2 linked regions of the Homo sapiens genome follow. The protein of the gene in region 2 interacts with the protein of the main gene of each other region in a pairwise test. Each region holds a gene or a part of one and is shown on either strand. Other genes may lie near its edges.

The links.
Region 1: the proteins of UMPS (region 2) and PAXIP1 interact in a two-hybrid assay, tested with the Homo sapiens proteins (one study listed by BioGRID and IntAct).

The regions. Positions count from the first base shown.
Region 1 is NC_000007.14:154,962,717-154,974,024, reverse strand, and holds part of PAXIP1 (PAX-interacting protein 1), read left to right. Parts: exon of another isoform or gene 1-2,818; intron 2,819-3,936; exon of another isoform or gene 3,937-3,971; intron 3,972-4,898; coding exon 4,899-5,622; intron 5,623-6,114; coding exon 6,115-6,209; intron 6,210-10,258; coding exon 10,259-10,354; intron 10,355-11,308.
Region 2 is NC_000003.12:124,722,155-124,733,451, reverse strand, and holds the start of UMPS (uridine 5'-monophosphate synthase), read right to left. Parts: upstream 3,001-11,297; 5' UTR 2,981-3,000; coding exon 2,825-2,980; intron 1,947-2,824; exon of another isoform or gene 1,848-1,946; intron 1,014-1,847; exon of another isoform or gene 936-1,013; intron 1-935. UniProt on the Homo sapiens protein: Bifunctional enzyme catalyzing the last two steps of de novo pyrimidine biosynthesis, orotate phosphoribosyltransferase (OPRT), which converts orotate to orotidine-5'-monophosphate (OMP), and orotidine-5'-monophosphate decarboxylase (ODC), the terminal enzymatic reaction that decarboxylates OMP to uridine monophosphate (UMP).

The sequences.
Region 1 (11,308 bases), on a different chromosome or scaffold from region 2:
TGTGTAGTAGGTGGGGCAGAGCAAGAGGAGGGTCTGGGGCCAGGCTCTGAGGAGCCGCACCATTGAGAGCCAGCTGGGCTGTTCCATCTGATGGTGACACCCCGTCTGCCGCTTCACCTTGTTCTGGACACTTTCATTTCATAATGACAGCTCAAAGTCCCAGAAAAATGGCTCTGTAGCATATAGGAACAACCTGAAGCCGGATCCAGTATTCTCCACATCCACTTTCAGTGGAAAGGCTTGATGTTGATGAAGTGGGGAAATTCAGTATGGCGTAGGTATAAGGTGATGTTGACAATGATCATTTTATTGGGTATGATAATAGCAGTGGTTTACGTAGTGTTTAGAAATGCTGTGGGACAGACAAAATCTTTGTCTCCCCTCCCCTCCACCTAAGCAGCGAGTATTAGTAGTACACGGTTCTTGGGATGATGACAGCGGTTGGCTGGCATCCAGAGTAAGATAGAGGCAAACATGCCCTTTAGATGTTAGACAGCAGACAGTTAAGATGGTGGGGGAGAAGGTGAGCAGAGAGAGAAGGTCATCGGGTTTGAGGAGAATAGAAGATTTTCAAATAGGTGATTCATAGATAGGGAAGACTTTGGGTTTCTGGCTTGAGAGGTGGATGCCTGATAAAATGCCGAGCTGGCCTTCCTCAAGTCCTGGGTGGTGACAGTGCCTTGTAACTGAACAGCAGCTGCCCGTTAGGAGCTCTTGGGCCTGCTTCAGTGCCCACCGCTCCATGTCACCTTGTTGGGTCCCGGAGGAAAACAGGCCTGCCACTGACCATGGGTCTTGGGGGTGGTTGGGAATGTGTGGCTGAGGAAATGGGGAGAAGGCCACCAAGATGAGGAGGTCCAAGAGCTGCAAGGCCAGGGATTGTCCAGGTGGGTGCCCATGAGAGCGCTGGGGTCAGCCGAGTTTAGGGAAAAGGTAGATGCACAGAAGGAGCCAGCTCCAGCACCGCCCAATGCTGAGGGTGCCGGCCCTGGTCCCTGCACATCCGCGTCCAGGCAGGTGGGCGGGATAAAGCCACAGGGCACAGCCTCAGCCACAGAGCAGCAAAGTGACGATCACACAGTCGTCCTGAGAGCCAGAGGATGTCATGACAGGTAGAAAGTAAAGGCCATAAAGAATGACAGGCTAGAGGCAAAGAGGATTCTAGCATTTTTGACCTCAGTCATGAGAAGAGTGATGATACTGCTGAGGTGGAGGAATTGAGAAGGTGACCCAGTCCTGGCAGGAAGACTGCGGCCACGCAGTGGACCTGTCCTGTCAGCAGTGGGATATGCGAGATATGGGCCGTAAAGATCTCTCTCATAGGGTTGGTGTGAGAAATCATGGATTAAGCCTCTGGCACTTCGAGAAATGGCTACTTTCTCACTTTCTTTAGGTGAGAAATTATGGACAGAAGTCATCCATTTGAAATAGGAAATTTTCTTTGCTTTTCATTTATCTGTGGTGTCAAAAAGTGTTGGTCAGTTACTGCTGGTTAGTTACTACTTATTTCTAATATATATGTTTTGGTTGTTTTTTGAGACAGAGTCTCACTCTGTTGCCCAGGCTGGAGTGCAGTGGTGGGATTTCTGCTCACTGCAAACTGCACCTCCCTGGTTTAGGCGATTCTCTTGCCTCAGCCTCCTGAGTAGCTGGGATTACAGGTGCCCATTACCACGCCCGGCTAATGTTTGTTCATTTTTATTAGAGACGGGTTTTTGCCATGTTGGCCAGGCTGGTCTCGAACTCCTGACTTCAGGTGATCTGCCTACCTCGGCCTCCCAAAGTGCTGGGATTATAGGTGTGAGCCACCGTGCCTGGCCTTATTATGTTTTTCAAATACAATGGATGTTGGTTTAAATATAAAGTTCCTTAAGTTTGTATTTGGATATAGAGACAAAATAATTTACTTTGAAATGGAAAGAATTGACTGCAGTAGGGAGTTTGGGCACATCTCTGCACTGGAAATTGTCCTTAGGAGACAAATTTGATATACTCAGCTGTGTGCTCTAGCGGTGGAAAACTGAGAAGGCTCCATCCATTTCTAGTGAGTGAATGGATTTGATCACTAGTGAGAAGAATTGCGGAGATTTTCTGAGAGACTTTCAGCAATGCAAGAGAACATAAGGACGTTTTACTTCTAGATGTGAAGAAAATGACTGAAACTTTAGAAATATGAGACAGATTTAGTTGAACATTAGATTGTTGGGGGGAGTGTAACTTACCATCAAAATCCTGTTTAAATTGCAAATTTATAGTGGTTAGAAGCCATGTGATGTGTATCATACTGCTTTCTATATATGGCATTCAGTAACTCAGTATTAATGTAAATGAGGATTATGACAGTTGTGATGGAAAAATTTAAACTTGACATTCATTCAGAATTGTTTGTAGTATAGCACAATTACGTAATTGAGCAATTAAGATTCTTTTTCTTACGTTCTCCAGGACTAACATGTTTCCAGCCAGAGGCAGATCAGATGGTTGAAAAAGTGATCGGATGAATGTGGTAGGGGTTTTGGGAGGCATCTCGATGGCTGGCCTTGCAGATTTCTCCTCTCCATCCAGGCCTGCACCTCTCGCTTCCTCAAGTGGAGAAGGTTCCAGGCCAACGGCCATCTTCATTCCTAGCCGGGACTCTTGTCCTGAATCTCCATCTGTTCTTCTCCCTTAATGGGGTGGGTCAGCAGTGGATGAAGACCCATCTTAACTCAAGCCCGTAGTAGAAACAGCTGTTAAGTTGCCTCCTGTCAGCAGTGGATGGGCTGGGTCAGCAGTGGATGAGGACCCATCTTAACTCAAGCCCGTAGTAGAAACAGCTGTAAGTTGCCTCCTGTCCTACCTAGGCCTCCCTCAGCCCTCTGAGATCAGATGGAGCACTTTCTGCAGGCAGCAGACCCTGCTGAGTCCTCTTGGCCAATCTGAAAAATAGGAGCCTCTGGCCTCTGTGCTGTCCTGATGTCTGCTGCTGTGTTTGTCTAGGTCCTGTGCCTGTTCCTGAGCTCCCTTCCACCTGGGCTTGGCAGGTACAGAGAGGCGGGGAGCAGCATTTGGTAATGACTAGTTCAGCCCTGTCCACCTGCAGACGGGCATTTATTTCTTTACCATCCCTCAGAGTTCCATGGGCTGTTTACATATGAGGGTGAAAAAGTAATATGTGTACAAAATTCAAAAATTCAAATGATACCAAAGGACAGAGTGAACAGTTAAACTCTCAGCCCCCCTCCCACCCCTCGCTGCTGTTTACCTTCTCAAGAGGCAGCCGCTGTTTCCAGCAGTTTGCCGTGTAGGGCTCATGGCTGGTGCCCACCAGGCAGGCAGGTGCCCCACACGTGCATGCTTCTTAGGGGGTGTTTGCACAGCACCAAATGCTGCTGGGCTCCATGGGGTGGCATGTTGTGGGGTGAATTGTCCCATCTTCTTTTCTGGATTTTTAAAAATACTTTTAAATATGGAGATGAAACAGTTGTCTTATTATTTTGTTTAAAAGACATTTTTCTGCTTAGAGTTCCACTCAGGTGTTTCTGAAGTCTTGAATCCTTTTATAGAGATGTCTCATACATAAGGTGATTTTAGAGATGGGTGTGCCCAAGCTCTTGATTTTGACTTATTTCAATTCTAAACTCCCTTATTTATTACTAAATCCAAAATCTGTTACCCTTGCAGGTCATATAATCTTTGCAATTTGGAATCTGTTTAAGTGAAAGATACATGTTAGAATATGTTTGAGATTTTGGTATAGTTCTGATATGTGTTAAATTCCTAGAATTTTATTTAAATTTTAAATGCTTTTAATAGGGTTAAAAGTTGTATGGATTGAGTTAAGTAAAATCTATTTTTACTGATTTCCATGACCATAAGAAGTTGGTTTCAAATTTTTGTTGCTTGAGCATGTTGAACAAAATTCATTGTATAATGTGTATCTCTTGTTGTATTCAGTGCCCTATAGGATATTAAAAAAATAACTTACTCTGCTTGGTGGGCATCTGCTGGTCACCGTCCTTCTCCTACTCCTCAGCGTACACAGAACTCTCAGCTTATTCCCTGTCATTGTGAAGCAGAAAGAGCTAGAAGACAAATAGTCTGGTTTGAATTCTTTTTTTCTAGCTTGAAATATTTTTGTGTCCCCCATGAAGACTCAGTCATTTTTGAGGAAGCATCATTTCCCAGCTCTAATGATGAGTCCTTAGTTGGGAGGAACATCACCATTTAAACAGCCCCGGTGGTGTCTTAGCTGGCCTCCTTTTCCATAGCATGCCAGTGCACATAGCAAGTTGACAGTGGAGCGAAAGGCTCTTGGACTCACAGCTTGGGTCATGCTGCTTTCATCTGGAAGGTGATCCACTGAGAACCTTTGTTTACTAGACTCTGGGCTGTAAGACAAGAGGAAATGGGAAGTGGCAGCTGTGGCGAGAAGGTTTGAGGTGAGGCTGAGCCCGATTACCAGATGCCTTCACCACCTGTCATTCCTCAGTGCATTCCTGGGCCAGGAGAGGGTCTGCGGAGCTGATGCAGGCGATGGGCAGTGGAGTGGTGCCGCAGCACGGTGCAGGGAGCACCAAGGCTTAGCTACCAGGTGTGCACAGGACTCCCATGCCCTGCTCTGGCAAACACATCAGCCGTCTGAGTCTTTGTCACTTTAATTCGTTAGTTTACTCCATTTTACTGATGTAGTTTCAAATTTTGGTGGTCTCAATATATGAATTTACTTTACGATATTGGCGTTACAAAATAAATACAAAAGAAAATGCAGTATTGTTTTTGCAGTTTCCAATCATTTGCTGTGTCTACTTAGTTGAATATTGTTAATAAATAGGATATGCCATTCTCTTGACTAAGAAATTATCATTCATCTGTTTCAGGAACTGTTGATAATGTTTCACCTAACTTTTGTTTTGTAGATCTTACAGACTCTTTCAGCACCTACGAAAAATTTAGAACAGCAGGTGAATCACAGCCAGCAGGGACATACAAATGCCAATGCAGTGCTGTTTAGCCAAGTGAAAGTGACTCCAGAGACACACATGCTACAGCAGCAGCAGCAGGCCCAGCAGCAGCAGCAGCAGCACCCGGTTTTACACCTTCAGCCCCAGCAGATAATGCAGCTCCAGCAGCAGCAGCAGCAGCAGATCTCTCAGCAACCTTACCCCCAGCAGCCGCCGCATCCATTTTCACAGCAACAGCAGCAGCAGCAGCAAGCCCATCCGCATCAGTTTTCACAGCAACAGCTACAGTTTCCACAGCAACAGTTGCATCCTCCACAGCAGCTGCATCGCCCTCAGCAGCAGCTCCAGCCCTTTCAGCAGCAGCATGCCCTGCAGCAGCAGTTCCATCAGCTGCAGCAGCACCAGCTCCAGCAGCAGCAGCTTGCCCAGCTCCAGCAGCAGCACAGCCTGCTCCAGCAGCAGCAGCAACAGCAGATTCAGCAGCAGCAGCTCCAGCGCATGCACCAGCAGCAGCAGCAGCAGCAGATGCAAAGTCAGACAGCGCCACACTTGAGTCAGACGTCACAGGCGCTGCAGCATCAGGTTCCACCTCAGCAGCCCCCGCAGCAGCAGCAGCAACAGCAGCCACCACCATCGCCTCAGCAGCATCAGCTTTTTGGACATGATCCAGCAGTGGAGAGTTAGTAATGGAGATTATTTTTCCTCTCTCCTAAAAGTCTTGTACCCACATAAATGCTTTGAGAGTGTTTGAGTGTGGGGTGAGGATTCATATCAAAACAATTACTACAAAATGGAGAGTGTGAGTCTCATACCTAACAAAGAATATAGTTACCATGGGATAATTATGCTTTCTTTTGTACTTTGGGACATCATATCCTGAAGTGAATATTGGTGTCCCGTAGAACATCTAGGCTGCCACAGGGACTCATTCAGGGTATTTAATGGCCAGGCATGAGTTACCTTGGTTTTAGTTTTTAATGATCATTTGATGTAGACAGTTAAATAGTATCTTCGTAGCAATATTCCCTATGCACTCTGATTACTGGCAGATACGTCATGGTCAAGACTGATAAACATAACAGATTGACATTGTGAGGCGCCACTTTTTAACTTTTGTGCAAGCATATTCATAGGGTTTTAATTTTCTTTTTCTTATGTAATTTTACTCTAGTTCCAGAAGAAGGCTTCTTATTGGGATGTGTGTTTGCAATTGCGGATTATCCAGAGCAGATGTCTGATAAGCAACTGCTGGCCACCTGGAAAAGGGTGAGATTGTGCCTGGAGGAAGGATGACTGTGTCTGAAGATGCTTCTTTCTTATGTAGATGTAACTGTGTTCACTTAGCTGCATTCACTGAGCTGCACCTGCACGTGTTCTGAATGTGTGACGGGCATTTTGATTAACATTCTGTGTGACCTGAGGCACAGCACTTTTCTGGGCATCAGTTTTCTCAGCTGTTAGATGAAGATGGTGGACTTTTTATTTTTTTCAGCTTGGAAATTCCAGGGGGCACTAATTATATGTGTATAATTGGGGCAATGGAAATAAGTTCAGGGTTTTGGTGTCCTGGGAGAGGGACTATTAATTTGTATGCATCTCAGTCATTTCTCTTTCTCCAAAGGTAACTGTTAGAAAATCCTGGAATCTCTAGAACCTCAAATTCTTCCAGCCCAATTGTGAAACTGGAGTTAATTTAATTATGTATTATCATGCATGGTGGCCTTTAAAGAAAAGAAATACTTTTTCTTGCATTCCCCAAAACAAAACTGAGTCAAAAAATTTTTTTTATAAAAACCGAGTTTAAATATGCCTCTAATATATCTTGAATGTGCTTCACTATAAACATCCCTAGTGCTTAAATCCCTGCTATGTGCCAAGCATGCTGCAAGACTTAGGGAATATGTGCGAAATCACAGAGACGGAGAAAACGGAAGAGCAGTGCGAGAGGCAGCCACACGGCTAAGCAGAGGTGGGGTGGCAAATGCAGGCTGTTGTGAGAGCCTGAGAAAGGACCTTCACCCATCGTGTTGTGGGGTGATGTGTTAAGAAAAGTCTGCTGGGAGAGGTGATTCCTGAACTGCTTATAGGATGAGTAGGAGTGAGAATTAGGGGGGAGGATTTTCCAAATAGTGCAGCACAGCCAAAGGCATGTGATTGGTGAAACTGACAGGAGGGTGCAAAGGAGGGTGCCTCAGTGGGATCCACGAGGCAGGGGTTGGGGCAGGAGCCAGGGCTGGTGTGTCTTCCAAGACCTTGTTGGTGTGCCATGTGGTGAAGTTTAGATGCAGGTGAAGTGATCAGCTGTGCATTTTAAATAGTAAAGGGTTGAATCTGAGGGTGACCAGGGAGATGACTGTGTGGCTGGCTGAGGAAAGAGGCGGATGGCATGTGCCAGGGTGAGGAAGGAAGGGAGCAGTTCTGAGAAGGACAGCAGCAGAGATTTTTTAAAAGTCAGAAGTGTTCGAAGGCAGCACTGAGAAACTGTCTTGAGAAGTACAACAAAACTCAAAGATACAAAAGTTAGTGGAGAAAAGTTTGGGGTTTTTGTCTTGTTTTCAAGTTAAAAGATTTATCCAAGAGGTCTAACATTAAATAGGATCTTGGGAACAGAGAAAATGAAGGCAAGAACATTATGAAAGAAAATAGCTTTGCAACTGAAGGCCATGTGCCCTCAGGTTGAAAAGAAATGTAAGGAGAGCCATGATAAGGCAACTGGGAACATTCACAATGCTGGTAGAGAAAACTGTTTTCTCTCAAAGACAAGCTCACTGGAGGGGAAACGTGGACAGATCAGGAGTCTGGGTGATTTCGGGAGCCTCCAGTGCAGTGCGCGGGGGCCAGCAATGGAGCAGCTTCTTCCATTTTTGAGGGAAAATAATTTCCAACCTAAAATAACCTATAGAGCCTATCAGTCATAAGACTATGGAAGGAGGATATTTGTAGACTAATGGTAAAAAATGTACCTCCCTTATATTCTTTCTTAGGAAGCCACTATGCCAGCAGAGAGTGAAACATGGTAGCCAGGAAATGAGGCATTTGACTCAGAGATTGAAAGAGAGTTCCTAGGATGGAGGTAAAGGGAAACGCCAATAGATGAGAAAGTAGGTGTCGAGAGAACTAGACCTGGGACCGGAAGAGAGACTTCCAGGAGGAGCAAGCAAACGAAAACACTGGTAGATTGAGGAGAGACATGTACCGCTGACCCCTGAACAGTGTGGGGCCTAGGGGTGCTCACCCCCATGCAATCAGAGATCTGTACATCACTTTTGATTCCCGAAAACCCAAATTACTAATAGCCTGGTGTTAACCAGAAGCCTTACTGATAAACAGGCAATTAACGCATATTTTGTATATGTATTACCATATTCTTACAATAAAGTAAGCTAAAGAAAAGAAAATGTTATTAAGAAAATCATAAGGAAGAGAAAATATATGTACTATTCATTAAGGGGAAGTATATCATCATAAAGGTCTTCATCCTCGTCGTTTTCACGATGAGTGGGCCTAGGAGGAGGAGGGACAGGAGGGGCTGGTCTTACTCCCTCAGGGGTGGCAGAGGTGGAAGAAAATCCAGCTATCAGTGGACCCACACAGTTCACACCTGTGTTGCTTAAGTATAGGTGATACTACATTCATTTTCTCTTGCTGTGTAACAGATTATCTCAAAACCCAGTGGCTTAAAACAATAAACATTACCTCTCAGTTTGGTCGTGGGTCAGAAATCCTGCAACAGCTTGGCAGGGCGGTTGTGGCTCAGCTATCTCCTGAGGTTGCAGTCAGGATGCCAGCGGAGGCTGCAGGAGCCCCTTCCAGGATGGTTCCGTCACATGGCTGTGGGCTGGAGGCCTCAGCTCCTCACCACAGAGGCTCTCCAGAGGGCTGGTTGTGTGTCTTCACAGCATGACAGCTGGCTCCCTTCCCCAGGGGGTGTGACCCAAGATAGAGGGAAAACCCGCAGCGTTATGGTGTCTTTTGTGACTGAGTTATGGGAGACTCCCACTGTCAATTCCACCATATTAAGTGACTAAGTCTAGACCATATTTAAGGCTAGGGGAGTAAAGCTCCAACTCTTAGAGGGAGGAGTATACAGTAATTTGCAGACATATTATAGAACCACCATATGTACATTTTTCATAGAGTTTGGGAATGAAATAGTAAAAGGTATATAGAAAACTAAGAAAAGGGAAAATTCTGGGGGGCTGGGATGAGGAAGTGATTAGCACCAGGGAAAACCAAAGTTTATACCAGAAAGGAACTCTAATCTTAGGCTGCCATATTAAGCCATGTGGCTGGGCTACATTGTGTTAAGTCACTGATGAATGATCTAAACAAGAGTCTGGATATAACCAAATCAGGAAGGCTTGAAGAATGTGTGTGTTATTGGGGGGAACGGTGTCCACAGTAGGAGGTAGATGGTTATGTAAAACTAGAGAAAAGGAACTAATATAAAGTGTTAGTTGGAATATATTAATAATTGTCAGTGGAAACAGCTTAAAGTGCTAAATGTGCTTCAGGGGAGTGAAAAGCAGGGATGGGTGAGGAACCTGTGGTTTTGTCCTGTGCCTCATTAAACTATATTTATGCTTAGCCATAGGAAAAATAAACATTCACATCTTAAAAGTAGTAAGTGAAAGAATCGGTTTTCTTAGGGGGCAGGTCTTTTTAAAGTTTATATTTCACCTAATAGGCCGTCAGATTCTCCTTTTTCCATGTACAATATTTTGAGTTCTGAAGAATGTCCAGGGTCGTGCAGCTGTCACAGCCCGGACACAGAGCAATTCCTTCCCCCAGAAAACCAGATGTGTTTTGAGAAGAAACTGTTGGGATTTACTAATTTCATTCTGATTTGCTTTTTATTTCCCTTTTTAAGGGAGGTGGATCTGCCCACCATAGACCTTTGGCAGTATCTGAAGATCTTTAGTAGTCGCGGCTAGGGGGCTGCTGCTGGCATAGGGTGGGTAGAAGTTGGGGACACTGCCAAACATCCTCCTCTGTACAGGACAGCCCCCACTTCCCAGAACTCCCTGGTCCAGAGTGGCAGTTACATTGAGCTTGAGAAGCCCTGGAGTGCATTCCATTGTTCTTCTCTTGTATCCTGGGAATTCAGATTAAATTTAGAGTATTGGAGTTCATTTTCATTGTATGGTGCTGGGTAGAAAAGTCCGTAAATAGAACTGTTACATGTCCTTGATACTTTGAGGAAATACATGATATAAATATATGATAGAGTCTTTTAATAGCTGCCTTATTTGAAATTGGAATTCTCCTCTATTCTGAGTGATTGATGACTGCATTGGTCGGGTCTTTGTGTGTAGATAATCCAGGCACATGGCGGCACTGTTGACCCCACCTTCACGAGTCGATGCACGCACCTTCTCTGTGAGAGTCAAGTCAGCAGCGCGTATGCACAGGTAAGGAAAATAGCCTTAGCTGCGACCAGGAGCAAGGTCTGGCATTTTTAATATGCAATCTTAAATGCTAGTGATTATTATTTTTGGAAAGAACTTTTTTCTACCTCTAAAGATAGGAAAATTCCTTCTTCCTGTGATCGAATCTTTGGTGGGATTGATATCTTTTGTGGGCACCATTGTCTTTGAGCAATGGAGAAAGAAAGGGATGTTCCCAGGTGGTGTTAAGAAAGGGCGGACAGGAGGCCGAGGTGGACGGGTCACGAGGTCAGGCGTTTGAGACCAGCCTGACCAACCTGGTGAAATCCTGTCTCTACTAAAAATACAAAAATTAGCCAGGTGTGGTGGTGCGCAGCTCTAATCCCAGCTACTCAGGAGGCTGAGGCAGGAGAATTGCTTGAACCCAGGAGGTAGAGGTTGCAGTGAGCCAAGATTCCACCACTGCACTCCAGCCTGAGTGACACAGCGAGACTCCATCTCAAAAAAAAATAAAAGAAAGAAAGGGCGGACACTCCCTGCAGTCACCATTCCAGCTGCTCTCTGTGCACGGTGAAGGGACGCAGGATTCTGTACTGGTGTGTGACTTGCACACAAGCGTGTAAAGACCAGGTCCCTTACAGAGCTTTTCTAAAACTACCGGGGTGCAGGCTTTCTCCTCAATATTACCTTCCTGTGCTCTCTGAAGTTTCATTTCTTTTCAAAAAATAATGCTTATTGTAGACAGATTATATATATATGTGACAAATGACTTCCAAGACACCCCTCTTAAAGAGGATAGCCATTCACAGGATCTGCTTTTCCTGTAAAAATGTGGAAATACTTCTGAGACTTTTTTTTGTTTTCCTGTGGTTCATCTTAGGTGGATGGTTTTTTGTATTTTTTCTTATGTGGGGCCCTCTGTCCTTATGGGGCACTTTTAACTTTGGTGGTCACACATGTTGTTTCAGTCATCACTGA
Region 2 (11,297 bases):
TGCTGCCTCATGACCCTCACCAAAGCCCATGTAAGGAGCTGAATCCTTAAGGACTGAAGAGAAACTATTCTCTTGAGGAAAAGAAAATGGAAATTGTACTTTTTAAAGAAGAGAATTCTTCTGTATATCATTAAATTATAACAAGCATATGATTAATTCAAACATGATTTGCAAATTTTGACAGAGAGATAAAAACAGATTTGGAAAATGCATTTTTAGTGAGTTAATGCTACCTTTCCTCTCCAATTACTTTATGTACACTAATGTGTATATAGTACTATAGTCAAATATCACTTATTATCACTTATTAAGGGAAGTTAGAGTTTAGCATAAATTATATTGCTTTTTGGGGTGTAAATACTGAGAAATTCTATTCGCATAAGATGTGAAAAGAAGTTTTGTTATACCCAAGTCTCTCCATGTTTTGAACTCCTCCCCAGTTAATCACCAAAATACACACACACACACACACACACACACACACCATGATCTAGTTATCAAAAAACTTTTTCTGTCATTTATCAGCTGGCTTATTAAAATAAATCAATTTTTCCCTAGAAAATCCTTAGTAATTCTCCACATTGCTAAGATACACCATAGCAAGATTCTGGATGGTGAGAAGTTAATGGTCCAAAGTACCGCAACCTTAATAGTCCAACCTATCTTCAATACTTTTTACAATAACCACACAAAGTGGTCCCTAGTGAACATAAACCCTTAAGTGGGCTGAGGAAACTTATATGTCTTCTTGATAGAACTTTCTGCAATGATGGAAATGTTCTCTATCTTTGCAGTCCAATATGATAGCCACTGGCCATATATGACTATTTAAACTTAAAAATTCATAATGCTCAATAGTAACACGTGGCTAGTAGCAAACTGTATTGGAAAGCATATTTACGGCCCTCTACTCAGTGTGGTCTGCAGTTTCAGCTGGCACTTTGTTAGAAATGCACAACCTCAGGTCTAGTCTCAGAGCTACAGAAATGGATTCTGCATTTTAACAAAATTCCCAGGTAATTCATATATACTCAAAGTTGAGAAGCACTGTATTAGAAACCTCTAATTTGTACAAAAATTTTCCTTATATTGACTAAAAACCTGCTTTCCCAATATGTCCACCTTCTAGTCTTAATTATTGCTTCTGGCCGCACAGTGCAAAATTCAACTCCCCTTTCCAAACAGCCCTTCCAAGTGTGGACCTAACAGGAAGAGGCTGAGGCAAAATTAATATGAGTAGTTGCCCTGACTATAGGCTTCGATTACAGTAGTTACAAGTGGATTTTTAAAGCAAAAGAAGGGGCAGTTCCTATATTCACCAAGAATTTGCATTGAAATAACAGGAGGTAGCCCGGGGGTGGCACCAGGCATTTGTAGTCCCAGCTACTTGGGAAGCCGCCAAGGCAAGAGGATCTTTTGAGGCCAGGAGTTTGAGACGAGCCTGGGCAGTATGGTGAGACCTCCTCTCTACAAAAAAAAAAAATTTTTAATTTGGTGGGCATGATGGCACATGCCTGTAGTTCCAGCTACTCAGAGGTTGAGGTAAGAGGATCTCTTTTTTTTTTTTTTTTCTGAGACAGTCTCCCTCTGTTGCCCAGGCTGGAGTGCAGTGGCTCAATTTCGGCTAACTGCAACCTCCTGATTCTTCTGCCTCAGCCTCCTGAGTAGCTGGGATTACAGGTGTGCACCACCATGCCCAGCTAATTTTTGCATTTTCAGTAGAGACAGGGTTTCACCATGTTGGCCAGGCTGGTCTCGAACTCCAGACCTTAAGTGATCCACCCGCCTCAGCCTCCCAAAGAAAGCCTCCCAAAGTTGGGACTACAGGCATGAGCCCCTGTGCTCACCCGAGGCAAGAAGATCTCTTAAGCCCAGGAGTTCCAGGCTGCAGTGAGCTATGATCACAGAGCTGCACTCCAGCCTGGGTGACGTAAGAGAGATCCCATCTAAAAAATAAATAAATAAAATAATAACACAAGCGATTGATTAGCTATACATTGTTCTTTGTATCACACATTCCAGGTACATTAAGATAATGGGAGAGGCAGCTAGTCAGGGACAAAATTCCTTTAAATAATTGTCCCGGGGCTGCATAGGGGAGTATGGTTGAAGTCTCTCTGGGCTCTGATAAATTTTGTATACATCACAGAGTTCTGGTTGTTCTATTTTCCTTTTCTCACCAGTAATTTCCCAGCTACTGAATTCTCTGCCTACCCACGTTTTCCCGGTCTATTTGTTTGTTTTTTGAGGGCAGGGTCTCACTTGTCGCCCAGGCTGGAGTGCAGTGGCGCAATGACAGCTCATTGCAGCCTTGACCTCCCAGGCTCAGGTGATCCTCCCACCTCAGCGTCCCAGGCGTGCGCCACCACACCCAGCTAATTTTTTGTAGAGACGGGGTCTCGTCATGTTGCCCAGGCTGGTCTCGAACTCCTGGGGCTCAGGTGATCTGCCCACTTAGGCATCCCAAAGTGCTGGTATTACTCTCATGAGGCACCACGCCCGGCCGCAAGTCTAATTTTCTTAAAGAGTTAAATATACAGAATTCATTCAAGTGTGCTTCAGTGCCAGAAAGCGTTCCAAACTGGGTTTCCCGACTTTTGCAAAACACGTGTCTAAGCGTGTGGGTGAAAGAACAGACGACTCTCGAGGAGCCCAACCCCTGGCCTCTGTGCTTCTCATGCTTACTCCCCAAACCAAGAGTAGGGTCGGTCTGCCTGCTTGGCTCTTTTGCTCTCACTCACGGCCCAACTCCTGTCACCCTCTTCCATTTCCTTGTCCTCCTTCCCGCCACCAAGCCCTGTCCTTTCCCTTCCTAGGCCAGCACCTGACTCAGAAGACGCGGTCGAGACACGATGCCCCGCAGATCGATGTAGATGGGGGAGGAAAGCCCGCTCTTCAGCACGAAGTCCCCAAACTTGAAAGCCTGCACGTCGTACAGACCCGTCACCAATGGCCCCAAAGCTGCACGAGCGACCGCCATTGTCGCGCGCTGCCTGTTTGCTTCAAATTCCCAGGCGCCCCGGGCCTCCGGCGCCCCGATGACGTCACCCGCGAAGTCCCGCCTCTTCCGCCTGCCTCGTCTGCAGCTTTCCCGGCTTGCTGCACCCGTGGGTTTCCCCGGGCTCAAGGGTCAGGTGGATGGTAGCGAACCTAGCGCCAGTTTGTGCTTCTCCTGGTTTCTTCTGGATGGGGTCGCTGGGGTTCAAAGCCCAGAACAGCTAGATTGACTGTAGGATCATGAAGTCCCACCTTTCATGAGAGTTTGCATAAATCCTGTCCATTTTTTAATAGCCAATGCCTTCTCGACTAGTTCTCTTAATTATCTCTACTCCTTGGCCTAACATGTTATATTTGCTAGTTATTAGCCAAGATTTACCCCCCATGTTTCTCCAAATAGAATATAAGTTATCAAAGACAGGGACCTTTACTCAATTCTTTTATTAACTTCATAGCATCTAGTACGTGACAGTTCCATAGCAGTTTGCACATAGGAATATATAGCACTTAGATCATTACAGTATTCATTACCTCTTTTGTCTGTACTCTGCTTCCTGGAGGAGTACTTTTTTATTTCCTTTGGCGTACCTCAAATGCTTAGGTAATAGGTGTAGAAAAGGTAAGGGAGGGAAGGAGGAGAGTTAGAAGACGGTTAATTGATTGGTATCAGGGTTATCCAGGAGGATAATATTGCTAGACAATCTGAAAATCCAAACATATTTGGTCTTTACAAATAAATCCCTTAAAGAAATAATCAATAAATAATCTGTACAAATAAATCCCTTCTCCATTGTGTATATAAGGCAATACTTTATTCTAGCTTAAGGAAAATAACCCTTAAATTCACATAAAGAATGAAACCTTGTCATTTGCAGCAAGGTGGATGAACCTGAAGGACATTATGTTAGTGAAACAAGCCAGGAACAGGAAGATAAATACCAAATGTTCTCGCTCATATGCAGAAGCTAAAAAAGTTGATCTCATGGAGCTAGAGAATAAAATAGTAATCACTAGAGGCTGGGAAGGGTAGGGGGTGGTTAAAGGACACAAATTACAGCTAGATAGGAGGAATAAGTCCTAGTGTTCCATTGCACTGTAGGGTGACTGTAGTCAATAATAATTTACTATATATTTTAAAATAGCTAGAAGAGGGGCGTTTGAATGTTCCCAACACAAAGAAAGGATAAATATTTAAGGTGAGGAATATATGAATTACTCTGATTTGATCACTGTACATTGTGTGTATTGAAATAGCACTATGTACCCAATAAATGTGTACGATATCATGTGTCAACTATAACAAATACTTTTTTAAAAAAGAGGAACAGATAAGGCATAGCTGTATAGTGCACTACAAAGAACATGAAGTTTCAAACCAAAACATTTGGATTTTAGTCCCATTCTACTTACTGGCTGAGTGATCTTTGGCAATGCATTTTGAGCTATATGAGTCTCAATTTTCTCAAAAATAGAATGAAGAAGCCGGGCGCGGTGGCTCACGCCTGTAATCCCAGCACTTTGGGAGGCTGAGGCGGGCGGATCACGAGGTCAGGAGATCAAGACCATCTTGGCTAACATGGTGAAACCCCGTCTCTACTAAAAATACAAAAAAATTAGCTGGGCATGGTGGTAGGCGCCTGTAGTCCCAGCTACTCGGGAGGCTGAGGCAGGAGAATGGTGTGAACCCGGGAGGCAAAGCTTGCAGTGAGCCGAGATCGCATCACTGCACTCCAGGCTGGGCGAAAGAGCCAGACTGCGCTCAAAAAAAAAAAAAAAGAATGAAGATAATAATATTAACTTTCTCCAAAAATCACTATGAAGATTCAATAAGATAGTTCACTCAAAAACACTTGATAAAAAGTTGGTAGAGCTGAGTGTGGTGGCTCATGCCTGTAATCCCAGTACTTTGGGAGGCCGAGGGAAGTGGATCACCTGAGGTTGAGAGTTCGAGACCAGCCCAGTCAACATGATGAAACCCCGTCTCTACCAAAAAATACAAAAATTAGCCGGGCATAGTAGCACATGCCTATAGTCCCAGCTACTTGGGAGGCTGAGGCAGGAGAATTGCTTGAACCCCGAGGGGGTGGAGGTTGCAGTGAGCCAAGATCATGCCACTACACTCCAGCCTGGGCAACAGAGACTCTGTCTCAACAACAACAAACAAACAAACAAACAACAACAACAACAAAAAAAAAAGCAGAGGAACATAGATTGTACCAATTCATTTTGTGTTCTCCATTTCATTTACTTAGGCTGGGTAAAGGATCTTGGCTTTAACCAATATTTAGTCTTACTATTTTAGGTATTTACCCTAAAGAGTTTCCATGAATGTAAAATTTCATGCAGTAGTTCAATCTGAGCCTTTTCATGGACCTAGCTCTATATTGCTTACTGAATCCCTTCTGTATTCTACTCTGATATCTATTTTAGACTGAGCTTGTGGGGTTCTGATTATCATTTGTATTAGGGCTTTTGCTAATATTCCATAACTATATTGGTGATTCCTCTGAACCACTCCCCTTCAAAAAAATATAGGCTGAGGTACTGTTATTTAATTATTTATTATTGTTTGACCTACACTATACACACACAGAGACACTGAAACACACACATACACATTTATTTTAAGTTATGTTCTAGGGCCAGGTCAGTGGCTCATGCCTGCAATCCCAGCACTTTGGGAGGCAGAGATGGGAAGCCCAGGAGTTTGAGACCAGCCTGGGTAACATGATGAGACTCTGTCTCTTCAAAAAATAAAAAAAATTAGCCAGACATCATGGCACACACTTGTGGTCCCAGCTACTGGGGAGGCTGAGGCAGGAATATCACTTGAGCCTGGGAGGTTGAGGCCACAGTGAACTGTGATCATGCCACTGCAGTCCAGCCTGAGTGACAGAGTGAGACCCTGTGCCAAAAAAAAAAAAAAAGTTATCTTCCAGTGAATGTCTCAGTGACCTTGAACAATCACCTAGATTCTGTGACTCAGTTTTCTCTAATCCAAGTAAAATAACTTACTTCATAAGAATTTGTTGGGATTAAATGAAATATTAATTACAAATGGGCTTCATAAGCTATATAGGTGCTAAAATACATACAAATTCTAGATAAAAAAAAAGCCCATAAGGGGCTTATGATTTTAACTCATAAACCTGATTCTGATTTCATTTCTAATATTCTTTATTATCTATATTTTCTCAGGAGATTGTGCTGATGAGCCAATGTGAAGAGCCCATGCTTTTGACAAGTGTTTCTCATTACAAATAAATGCAATAAAATCTTAATGAAATAGAAGCCAAATGTTAAAACATGTTTTTGTTTTCTTGGCAAAATAAGCTAATCAAAACACTTTAACACTCTGGCTAATTGACAGTATACCATGAATCAGCCTCATTTGCACGTGGGTGGCACATTTAAACTTTCAAAGCCTGATCATATCTGTATAGGCTAACCCAAATTGCTGGAGTCCACACCAGAATGTATAAACTTGTGAGATCCAGCCCAAAATACCCTCCAGACAGTCTAACAACATTATCACCTGAAATACCAGTATGAAATTAACAACAACCCGAGGCTTTTTTTTTTTTTTTTTTTTTTTTTTTTTTTTTTTTTTGAGATAGGGTCTGGTCTCACTTTGTTGCCCAGGCTAGAGTGAGGTAGCATAATCACAGCTCACTGTAGCTTCTACCTCCCGGGTTCAGATGATGCTTCCACCTCAGCCTCCCAAGTAGATGGGATCACAGGCATGCACCAACACACTCAGTTAATATTTTTAAAACAATTTTTAATATGTGGGGGGTTGGGGGGACGTGGGTGTCTCCTTATTTTGTCCAGGCTGGTGTCAAACTCCTGGGCTCAAGAGATCCTTCCACTTTGGCCTTTCAAAGTGTTAGGATTTACAGGTGCTAGCCACCACACCTGGCTCTGAGGTTTCCTTGGCATTTTTGGGTAAATGCCTTAGAATACTCTAGGGCACAAAATTGTTGCTTTCTCTCTAAAATCCTGGGCCAAACATGTTGTAATAATCCTGTGATATTTTTACCTTTTCTAAGTCTTTCATATATTTGGAGAAAGAAAAAAATTACTCTTTTCTTTGAACAAAGGTTTAATTAGGAAAAAAGAGACAACCATATAGTATCTTTAGTATAGTATATTTATAGGAATGCATAACATGTGAGATGTACATTTTGAAGTTTCATCCATAACTTATAACATTTACTGTAGCAGTAACAAGACAGCAGGTCATCACTTTACAACATTACACATGAGTGATTTTGACTTACAAATAAAATATTTACAACCTACCTTTACAAAACGACATTGTGTGCATACAAAATGAACAACAGCAGAAAAATTTAAAAATAATAAAATAACCAAAAACCCAGAAGATACACTTAAGGCAGACCAGCAAGACACTGAAATAATTAAGGCTGTGGAATTCTTCTGCACCTTGAAAATATAGAGCTATTTATCAATACTGTGGAGTGATTTTAAATCAATTGTTACAAGCCTGATGGAAGTATGTACTTATATGTATATGTGCGATGGTCCCTATGGGGAAACCTGTCCACTTATGAATAAGGCCCTTTGTCTGAATGGCCAGTGAAGCCCACTCCAAATTCTCAAAAGACTTGAGGGGGGCAGGGGTCACTCAAAACCAAGAGATGCCAATACAGTTTGCAAATCAACTATTAATAGTTCAAATGTAAAGATAGTTATAAGTCCAGATAAACAGAATAAACTAAATGATGGCCCCTTTATGTTTCACACTTTGTTAGTTTGGCTTTGTGGATGTCAAAAGACAGCAAATTAATTCCAGAATGAGTAGAATTCGTCTCCACAAATTAGCCCTAATGGTTTTGAATGGCCCTAAATGGTTTTCCATTAGAAACATTGACCCACCTGGGCTGTCTGCAAATGGATAGATTTCTGCATATGAGCAATAACATATACATACATATTATACACTATATACATGTACAGATGTACATATATCCATATTTTCCAACAGTTTGCACTTTGATCACTACTGTTCTCTGAACAGGATCTCATTATGAAGAGTATGTTTAGTTTTTTTCAGTCTTCATATTTGTTCTAACTACTAGTTTTACTCACCTTCCCCATAGAGTAGGCTGAAGTTTGGCAGAAACAGAAGTAAAAGCACCAGGGTCAGAAAAATCAAACATAGAGTTGACAGATATGGCTTAAGTTAGTAAGAGAAGATGTATGTCTTGTTAACTTCAGATTCGTAGCCACAGTCTTTGAGGTCATAGTAACAGTCTCTGTAATACTCCAGAACATGGATTCAGTTGTTGATGGAAGTCAGGTATTGATGGAAACTCATATGATGGCCATCCCTGGGCCAACAAATTAGCTTGGTTAAACTAAGCCTCAGGAGTTGGCATTCCAAGAATTGTTATTTGCATTTCTTCTACCATGCTTCCTTTTCTCAGCTAACCTCACTATCTGAAATAGCAGTTATCTAACTAATGCGTTATCTTGATCATTTGAATAAAAACTAAATCTGAACACATTTTAGAATCTCACAGCAAAGGGGCACATTTCTCACAGAAAAATGCAATAGCCTGTGCGTATTAATTTCAGGCTTATCATAATGTCCCTCAAAGACGAAAAGTTGTCTTAGAGTGATTGCTTTTTCCTCTCCTCTAACTTCTTCATATTTATTGAAGATGAGGAAGAAATGCCTTTCATAGAAAATATGTTTTATGATAATCTGTATTCTACTACTTCTGCTTAAATTTTTTATGTGAGTAAATTTCCTATTAAAAACATTTAGTGCTATAAACAAATTTCAGCCCTTTTTAACCCTTTAGAATTAATGAAACAACTGAGAGCCTTAATATTTTTAGAAAATAAATATTAACATAGTAGCTTTCCTTTTCTTGATGGAGCGTGTGTGAGCTCTGTCGTCTCTAAGCCCACCATGGGTTTAATCATTCATCATCAAATCATCCCTAGGCTTTAAATAGTGAGGAAAAATCAAGGTGCAGTTTTATAAATAAATTCACTGAAAGGTCACATATTGCATTTGTCTAACCCAGACTCCACAGAGGTGCGACCCAGGAGAGAAAGGAAGAAGGTCTACATTCCTCGAAACTCATCCAGCACAATTCATTGACCATACTGAATAAGGACATGGTGAGTTTGAACTTTGCCCTACTACAAAGACCTCTTACGTACAAAATAATTTCCTCCTGTATTAAATGCATGGGACAAAGTTTTAGTTAATGCAAAATTTAGTTTATATCATATTTGCTCCCTCATATTCTCACAAATCTAAATTGCCATGCTCTTCCACAGAGGCAAGAAAAAAGTAATGCCTAACTCGTGGGCTCTAATCATGGAGGTTATGGGATAGCAAATATGCAACTCCTAAAAGACCTAACCACCTAAAAAAAAAAAAAAAGATTCAAGGTTTGTCCTCCAAAAATGAGCAGTCCAATTCATTTCTATGCATTTAATTTGCCTGTGCATTTAATTTGTCTCTTAGATTCCTGTGAGGCTGTGAAAAATAAATTGTGGTATGAGAAGATATTTTCTTCTCACTTCTGCCCTCCCAAGTGAAGAAAGTGGTTGTTGGGTTCTTCTCTGTCCTTTTTTCCAGAGCATAAAGCTTGAGAAGGAAGGTAGCAGTTGCTTTCAAGGGCATTTTACTCTTCGCATCTGCCATAAGAAATACTGGAGAAAACAACTTATGGACATAAGACTTCATCAGCTCTCCTAACCCTTTTCGGTAGACAAGCTCTTAAATGATCGAAATTATAGGCTAAGACCAAATAACATTTAGACAAAGAGCACCTGATACTTCCAACTGAAAACAATTTACAGAATTTAATCTCATGAGTTTATAATTGGTATCTAAAGACGTGAATATTGAAAACCTGGAATGTTCAAAGTTACTATCAATAAAATTCTTAGCACTGGCAGTGTGTAGCACTTAAAAAAATCAAAGTATTTTATAGATGTCCCCACCAAGGTTATTTCTCAACATTCCTGTAAGATTAATGTCCTCCCTCCTTCCCCATCCCCCAACTCCCATTTTACCAATGGGGACATTTGGGGAAGGAAAAACAAAGACTTTCTGTAAGAAAAGATGAATCAGGAATAGCTGAGATTGAAACTCAAACATTCCTGGTCCCACCCCTATATTCAGATGTTTTCATTTACAAGATATTTTAAAGTAAAGAAAAAATGCTGCAATATCAGTACATCTAAATGCAATGAACTTCTTTATCTCCCATCCTCCCCTCTGAAAGGCACTACTATTTATAAAGGCTTTGTGGACCACAAAGCAGTGAAGCTAGCTTTCTCCTCTGCTTCCTCTACTCCCCCTTACATTGTTTATGGCTGAGAGAGACCTGAAGGATATCTCCAACATTACCATTTTTTTCTTAAAAATTTTACCACATTCAGCTGTAAGTGGATATATATCTATTTAATTTGAAACAAATGTAAAAGATGTAGGAAATCATTATATTAATACTTCTTAAAAGTTATTATGGGTTGTCCCTGATCTTTTCATTCTTTCTGTATCCCACCCTTACAAAACAAAACAAAACAAAAAGCTCAAAACCCTATGCAATGAATAAAAGCCAAGCAAGAAACTTGTGACCTTGACCATTGTTTGTTTTTCCCATTTCAGCTGAAAGTTCACTCCCACTGTGAACTACCATCATAATGATAGAAATGGACCATTTTCTCTTCTCTCCTCTCTTCTTTACTACCAAGTAATAAATCTCTCCGCCAAAACAGGAACAAGAGTGGCCCCTGATCCTTTTTCCCTAAGCACGGTTGCCCTCAGAGCAACCTAAAGTACATTCCCCAGGATCATCATCATCTGGGATTCCTTGTTATTTCCAACTTGCTGTGGAGAACTCTTGAACCAAGACTACTCTCTTATCTCTGTTGGGAGGGACCAGGAGCTTTGCAGACAGGGAGCCTCCCTGTTAGTTTCCCTCCGTTATCAAACTATATAAAATATACCCCCTTTCTCTTGGGGCCTCTATTAAGTTCATTCTAGTCTAATGATTGTACCTTGGCTCCAGTTAACAAAATCATCCTACTTTTCATTTCTAGGTCCCTCCTTTCCTGTCTTCTCACTTCCCAAATATGTGTACTTGGGGGAATTCCATGCAACCCCACATCTGGATCCTCCCAACTCTGTTGTAAAAGCTGATATGAAAGCTTGGGGTCTGTCTAACATTCTGTCAACTGCCCCCATAACATAATTTCAAAAATACCCTCCTTGTCCCCCACCTGCCGTGGTCTGCACACCATTGTTC